2 linked regions of the Homo sapiens genome follow. The protein of the gene in region 1 purifies or fractionates together with the protein of each later gene. This does not show direct contact. Each region holds a gene or a part of one and is shown in the gene's direction. Other genes may lie near its edges.

Region 1 (3,814 bases):
AGGCAAGATGTCTGAAATCAAGATGTAGGTATGGCCATGCTCTCTCAAGGTTCGAGGGGAGAATCTGTTCCATGCCTCTTAGCTTGTTGTGTTACTGCCAATCCTTAGCATTTTTTGGCTTGCAGCTATGTCACTCCAGTCTGTGACTCTGTTATCACAACATAATCCCTGTGTGGCTCTGTCTTCAGATGGTGTGCTCCACTTCTTGCAAGGATACTAGTCGTATTGGATTAAGATCCACCCTAATCACCTCATCTTAACTTGATTACATCTGCAAAGACCCTATTTTGAAATAAGGTCACGTGCAGAGGTACTGGAATTAGGACTTCAACCTATCTTTTGTGGGGACACAGTTTAACCTGTAACAGTTGCACGGTTTATCTTTTACATCGTTCAGTAAATGTTTAGCATTATAGACTGAATCAGAGGCTATAGTGGAAACAGGATGGGACACTTACATTTATTTACATATATCAGTGATGTCTTAATCTGTTTTCTGTTGCCTCTAGCAGAATATCTGAAACTGGATAATCTATAAAGAAAAGAAATTTATTCCTTACAGTTAGGAAGGCTGAAAAGTCCTGGTTCAGGGGGCCACATCTGGTGAGGGCATTTGCTGGTAGGGACTCTGCAGAGTCCTGAGGATAGCACAGGGCACCACATGGTGAGGGGGCCGAGCATGCTAGCCCAGAACTCTTTCTTTCTTTCTTTCTTTCTTGTAAAGCTACCAGTTCCTTTCCCATGATAACCCATTCATGAGGGCTGAACCCTTAGTACCCAGTCACCATTTAAAGACTCCAGCTCTCAATACTGCCACAGTGGTGATTAAGGTTCAACATGAGTTTTGGAGGAGACAAACATTCAGACCACAGCAAGTGCTTACTATGTGCCAGGTCCTGGAGATAAAACAGTGGATAGGCAAAAATCTCTGTCCTCATGGAGCTTACATTCTGAAACACGGGTTCTAAAAATGTGGTCCCTGGATCTGCAGCATCATCATCACCTGGGAAGTTGTTAGAAATTGAAATTTTCAGGCTCCATCCCAGAACTCTTTATTTAACTAGCCTTCCAAATGATTCTGATGGAGACTCAGGTTTCAGAACCACTGATCAAGATGGAAAAGAGACAGTAAACAAGATGAATAAGTAAAATAATATTTGATATTAATAGGTGCTGTGGGTAAGCATAGGGTGGCCAGTGAAGACTCCTGAAAAGTAAAGACCTGAAGGAGTTGGAGAGTGAGCCATATGAGCACCTGGGTGCGTGTTCTTAGCAGAGAACAGTTAAGTGTGAAGACCCTGGCACGTTTGAGGAATGACAAGCAGTTAGTATTAGGTTCAATCTATGAAATTGCTGCTGTTTGTTCATTTTTGACCTACAAAAACACCAAATACTGGGGAGAAGAGATCAGAAAGAAAGGGGTGGAGTAGGATGCAGATTGTGGGTAGATCCTTGTAAGGTTTTGGCTCTCTAAGATTAGGAAGACGGGAGGGTTTTGAGCAAATGAGTGATGTGATCTGATTTCAGTTTTAAAAGGATCATTGTGGCTATTGGTAAAAATGGGCCAAAGAAGCAAAGGCTAAAGGAAGGGGAAAGTTGGTTAGAATGTTGTTGGAGTAGTTAAAAGACAGAGAGGTTGCTCAGACCAGGGTGATAGCAGTGGAGAAGTCAGAAGAGGTACAAGACTAAAAACGCACAGTAAATGGTTTGAAAAGTAAGTTTTTTTCATCCCACTCCAGTTACCCAGTTGTCCTCCTCAAAGGCAATTAGTGTTAAAAGTAGTCTTATCTCTATTCTTCCTGAGATTTTTTTTTTTTTGAGACGGAGTCTCACTCTGTCGCCCAGGCTGGAGTGCAGTGGCGCGATCTCAGCTCACTGCAAGCTCTGCCTCCTGGGTTCACGCCATTCTCCTGCCTCAGCCTCCCCAGTAGCTGGGACTACAGGCACCTGCCACCATGCCCAGCTAATTTCTTTTTTTTTTTGTATTTTTAGTAGAGACAGGGGAGATCTTTTATGTAAATGTGAGAAACAGTTTTAACAAATTAGTGGAGAGGTTGTTACCTGGAAACATTTAGCAATGTCTACAGACATTTTTGTTTGTCACAACTAGGGGGAATACTACTGGCATCTAGTGAGTAAAGGCCAGGGATGCTGGCTAAATATCCTACAGAGGACCGGACGGCTTCCACAACAGAGAGTTATCCAGCTCTTAATGTCAGTAGCGCCAAGGTTAAGAAACCTTAGTTTAATGGGATTTACAGAGGTTGGTGGGAAGCAAGTGTTGTAGTCAGAGAAGACAGTAGGAAGAGGAGCTGACCATATTGGGAACCTTTCAGTAACTGTAGACAGTTCAGGATTGCTGAAGCAGACATAAATTATAAGGCACAGAATAGCAAAAGACGAGGCTGGAAACCTGGACAGGCTCTAGGTCATAGCCTTTATTTATATATCATGTTAATAAAAAATGTTTAGTTTTTGTCTTGTAGGCAGTGGAGTTCCGTGAAAGGATTCATGGGGTGACATGGTCAGCTTTTCATTTTAGAGAGCTCATTCTGGTGACGGGGTATGAGTTAAAGAGGGATAGCACTTGAGTCAGAGAGGTTAGATATTGTAATAGCCTGTGGGGAGAGAGGAGAGTCTGAAATAGGATAAATACTAGAAATGGAGAGGAGACAATGGATTAGAATAATATTTAGGAAGTAATGTTGGCAAGACTTGGTAATTGGATTTGGGGTGAAGATAAGGGAAGCATTAAGAATATCTGTGTACTTTGTAGTTTAGATAATCCTGTGGCTCTGAGTGAAATAGGAACCCATTGGTGAATAATTTAGGTAATTACCAGTAATTAAGGTAAAATGAGCAGAGGAAAGTAATGAGTCACTTTGGAGGTGTTGAATTAGAGATGCCTATGGTCCAGGTGGAAGTATTTAGCAGGCATTTGTGTATGTGAATCTGAAACTTGGAGAAGTCTGAAAGGATCAAGAGATCATTTTGTTTGACAAGTGTGGAGAAATTAGTGGACTTTAATTTTTATCATATTATTTCACTCTGTAGATAAAAATTGCCTCCCTTTATTTAATTTTTATCAGAAAAGTAATGTGTGTACCCGATGCAAAATTAAAACATCAAAAGGTTATAAAATAAAAAAAAATTTGTCCTTCCTTGCTCATGCCACCCAGTGCTAGTTCCCAGAGATAGCTCTTGTTAAATATCATATGTATATATATCTTAACAGATTTTAAAATATATACAGAAACATTTAAAAAGCCAAGTGAAATCATACTAGAAAATATTTCGGTACATTGTCTTAAAAAATAAACCTTTTATCTTATACAGTTGTTAAAATGAATGACATTGTGTTATGGATAAAATAAGTGAAGGGGTAAATTAAAGTGCAGACTAACCGATAAGCATGATCTCTGATGTAAATTAAAAGCTGAACATACATATGTGATGATATAGGCATTACCCAACGATACGAAAGCAGTTACTTTTGGGGAGAGATAGTGGTAGAGATGGTAAAGAAAATTTACTCTTTTCTGTCTATGATTTTCTTTCATTTGTTTAGGTTTGTTCCTTTTGTTTTCTTTACATTTTCTGATGTTTAAAAAAATACCCAGTATACCTTATTAACAATAAAAAGTAACCTTTGTCAAAAGCACAAAGATTTTCCCTATCAGCACATGTAGATCATTGTTTTTAACAGCTACTACTATTCTATGCTATGGCTCTATCTTTTTTTTAAAAAACTGGTTCCTCATCAACAGACAGACGTCTTATGGTTATGGCTGTCGAGCATCTTGGCTGACTTCTA
Region 2 (3,814 bases), on another chromosome or scaffold:
AACCTGCGTGACCCGCCCCGGGAGCACCCCTACCGCAGCAGTTTTATCAACGTGACTCTGGAGGCCGTGCTGCACTCCGGCTTCCCCCAGCACCAGGTGAGGCCCTGCAACGCAGCTCTGCCCCCGGGAGCCCTGGCCTGGCTAGAGCCCTGCTGCTGCATAGCCTTTCCCTGTTGCACTCCGGACTTCAGCTTTCCCATTTGTAAAATGGGGATCACACACTGCTCACTTCCCTGGCAGGGTCATCATGGGACAAGAGGGGAACAAGAAAACACTTTAAAATGTATAAAGGTCCAGGCGGTCAAGTTATTTCAGTGAAGTGTTGCCCTGTCGTTTGGTGTAATAATCTGGGACCAGAGAAATCTGACATCAGTTTAGGACGGCACACTAGGTGCTAGTGGCCATGTGCAGAGTAGTGGCTGTTTGGGTTTTCCCTCCCGTACTGACAGCAGGCCAGAAGCGAAGTTTCCTGAGTTGCTGCCAGTGCACTTTGCAGCCTTGGCTGGGACTGAGTCCTGCCCTGCTAATGACTTCATCTAAGCTTTCACCGCCTGCCAGGTCCTGTCTCTTAACCCCACAGGTGCTCTAGGAGGAGTAGGTACTCTTACGCATCGTGCAGAAGAGAAGTCTGAGGCTGCCTCTCTTCTGCCTGCAGGTCATGTGGCTGCCTAGCAGGCAGAGGCCCCTGGTGCGGAAGGTGGCTCCCGGCTTCCAACAGACATCAGGCTCCAAGGAGGCAGTCGCCAGCCTGCGGAGAGGCCACATCCAGCGGCTGAACCTGCGCTACACTCAGGTGTCCCGCCAGGAGCTCAGGTGCCTGCCCTGCCCTGGGCTCCTCCAGGAGAGGGTGGGACTGAGTCTCTCCCAGTCCTGCCACCACCACCCCCCAACACACACACACACACACACACACACGGTCGGGCAGAGGGATGGGCACACAGAGGAATCAGGCACACATGGTTCAAAGACAAGAGGGTGAGCGTGTCGGGCAGACCCGGGCTTGTCCCGGAGCTTGGCCCTCTGGAGCCAATGTTCCTTGCCCCGGGCATGGCTGTGAGGTCGTGAACAGGACGTGCTTTACCAGCCCCGACACTGGGCCTGGAGCTGCCAGGGTCCGCATGCTGACCTGCCTCTCCCCTGCCCCACAGGGACTACGCGTCCTGGAACCTGAGTGTGAACCTCTACACAGTCAACGCACCGTGGCTCTTCTCCCTGCTGTGGTGTGCGGGGGTCCCATCCGTCACCTCTGACAACTCCCACGCCCTGTCCCAGGTGCCTTCCCCCCTCTGGATCATGGTGAGTTGGGGGGCAGAGGGCCCCTGGGGGGCAGTGCTGGAGCTGCCTATAGCCTGCCCTGACCACTCGGCAAGCTCTGTGCTTGGAGCTGTCCCTGGGAGGTCTCTAGCATGGTGGGGAGTCCATGGTGGGCGTGCAGGCTTGAGGCATGAGGGTTTCATGGCATCTGGGATCTGCACTAAGGTGCTGGGAGGACCCTGGGCCTCATCCACAGGGAGAAAAGCATCACTAAGGGCTCTAAAGAAGTAAAGAGCTGCTTGGGTTTCTTTGCTTTGGAGGGTAACAAGGACAGGAATAGGAAGCATTGACCGGGCGTGGGGCTCACGCCTATAATCCCAGCATTTTGGGAAGCAGAGGCAGGATGATCACTGGAGCCCAGGGGTACAAGACTAACCTGGGCAACCCTGTCTCTACAAAAAAAAATAATAATAATTAATTAATTTGCTGGCCAAGGTGGCACACGCCTGTAGTCCTAGCTACTCGGTAGGCTGAAGTGGGAGGATTGCTTGAGCCCAGCAGGTCAAAGCTGCAGTGAGCTGTGATCACTCCAGCCTGGATGACAAAGTGAGATCCTGTCTCAAAAAATAAAAATAAAAAAGAATAGGAAACAATTAAAATCTGCTCAGAGAACAGCAAATAAAGCAATATTTTAGCTGGTTGACTGGGCACCTGCAGATAGGTGGTGGCTCCACTGTCACCCTGAGCATGCAGAAGGCAGGTGGAGGGTATCCTTATGGCTGAGAGAATGCAGTGCCAATGAATCAGACCTAAGCTGTGGATGGTTCTATGGGAGAGGAGGGTGAAGGGAAGGCAGCCTGGGGAAAGGGTCGAGACCGATGGATGAGAGTCGGCAGCGGGGGGCGGCAAAGCCATTGTCTTTCAGTATCTGGCTCCTGCTTTGAGGACCCTAGACACACAGACCCTGCAGGCCTAGCACACAACCCCTCTGCCCTGAGCACCATACAGTCCCCTCCTACCCTGAGAGTGCACACGTGTGCACACACACGCCCCGGCCCCCAGGCCCACAGCGCCTGGAGCCTACACCTGCAAAATGTCATCTTCAGCCCCCAGACCCTCTCAGGGTCCTCCCTTGCCCTTCCCCAGTGGCCATGTGGGGTCCTTTGGTCCACGGACCCTCAGTCTGGAGCCTCAGTCTGGACTGGCCATGACTGGAAGTTGGCCTCGGGCCGTCTGTCCACAGCCCCCGGACGAGTACTGTCTCATGTGGGTCACTGCCGACCTGGTCTCCTTCACCCTCATCGTGGGCATCTTCGTGCTCCAGAAGTGAGTAGGATCTGACCACTTCCGTGGCTGTCCCTACCCTGCAGCAGGCCCAGCCCCCACCCCAGCCAGGTGAACCCTCTCCTGAGCCCTGGGCCTCAGCCAGGAGCAGGCCTGACCAGGGAAGAAGGACGGACTCCGGTGGCCCCATCCTCCCTCAGACAGAGGCTGGGTGACTTCTGGAATGAACATGCAGCTGGGATCCCAGAGCCAAGCTCTGCCTTGGGTGGCTATGTGGGCTTAGGTGAATTTCAGCTCCTCACCGGGCTGGCCTGCTCATCTGTTAGCCAGGGCATGGGTTCCCACCAGCCCTCAGCAAGATAGCTGGGGTGTGCTCGCAGTGGGGAGGTGTGGTTGGTCCCAGGGAGGGTCTAGGGCCAGCCTGGGGCCCCCACCCAGCCAGGAACCAAGGGGCTGGGATTTTATTCTTGACTGATGTTCTCTCTCTGTCCCATCCTGCTCTGATCGGCGCATGTCCCTCCTCTCTCCCCCTCCCCCTCTCTCTGCTGCACTCTGGCATCTCACAGCTATCACTTGATCAGGTAATTCTGGTGTGGTCTTCCTCCTCCTTCTGTTCCTCTTTCTCCCTCTTGCCATCCCTTCTCCAGTTCTGTCTAAAAACCCACCGTGCACCAAGCCCTGTGCCCGGGCCACCTCGCAGACAGCGCGCTCGCCTGAAGCCTCCCTTACCCCCGCAATCCTCTTTTCTGCTCCTCCCGTCCCACTGCCGTGTGTGTCCCTCTGCTCCCTGTTCCCACGGCCGTTTCTGCAGGTGGGGACCAGCGTTTCCTTGACAGCTTCCTGACCTGGCCCCTCTCTGCACCAAAGTGTCTCCCTGGGGGAGGGGACCCTGCCTGGGTACCCCCATCCCCCTGCCTCTGGCACTTACAGGGGCCTTCACCACTTGCCCAGGGCAGACCCTACCAAGTTTCTGCCTCTCTCTTCCCATCTTCTCCCTCCCTGGCTCTGCCTCTCCCACTGTTCACTCTTCCTGTTTACCTTTCTCTGCCTCTCCCATCTCTTTCTCTCTCTTCTTTACATTCTATCTCTAACACCCATCCCTGCTTTGCTCCCCGCAACACACAGCCTTTTCCTCATTCCCCTCAGAGGACCCCACAGTGGCTGAGCTTCCTGTTCTGGATATGCCTGGCCGAGAGACCCTGGCCTGACACTGTCCTTCTGGGTTTCAACATGAATTTCCAGGATGGGACCTAGAGCTTAGGGACCCACGTCTCCC

The links.
Region 2: the proteins of C1GALT1 (region 1) and GDPD5 purify together in Homo sapiens (co-immunoprecipitation; one large-scale study listed by IntAct). This does not show direct contact.

The regions. Positions count from the first base shown.
Region 1 is NC_000007.14:7,185,450-7,189,263, forward strand, and holds part of C1GALT1 (glycoprotein-N-acetylgalactosamine 3-beta-galactosyltransferase 1), read left to right. Parts: exon of another isoform or gene 1-28; intron 29-3,814. UniProt on the Homo sapiens protein: Glycosyltransferase that generates the core 1 O-glycan Gal-beta1-3GalNAc-alpha1-Ser/Thr (T antigen), which is a precursor for many extended O-glycans in glycoproteins.
Region 2 is NC_000011.10:75,438,645-75,442,458, reverse strand, and holds part of GDPD5 (glycerophosphodiester phosphodiesterase domain-containing protein 5), read left to right. Parts: coding exon 1-96; intron 97-655; coding exon 656-813; intron 814-1,148; coding exon 1,149-1,296; intron 1,297-2,497; coding exon 2,498-2,580; intron 2,581-3,814. UniProt on the Homo sapiens protein: Glycerophosphodiester phosphodiesterase that promotes neurite formation and drives spinal motor neuron differentiation.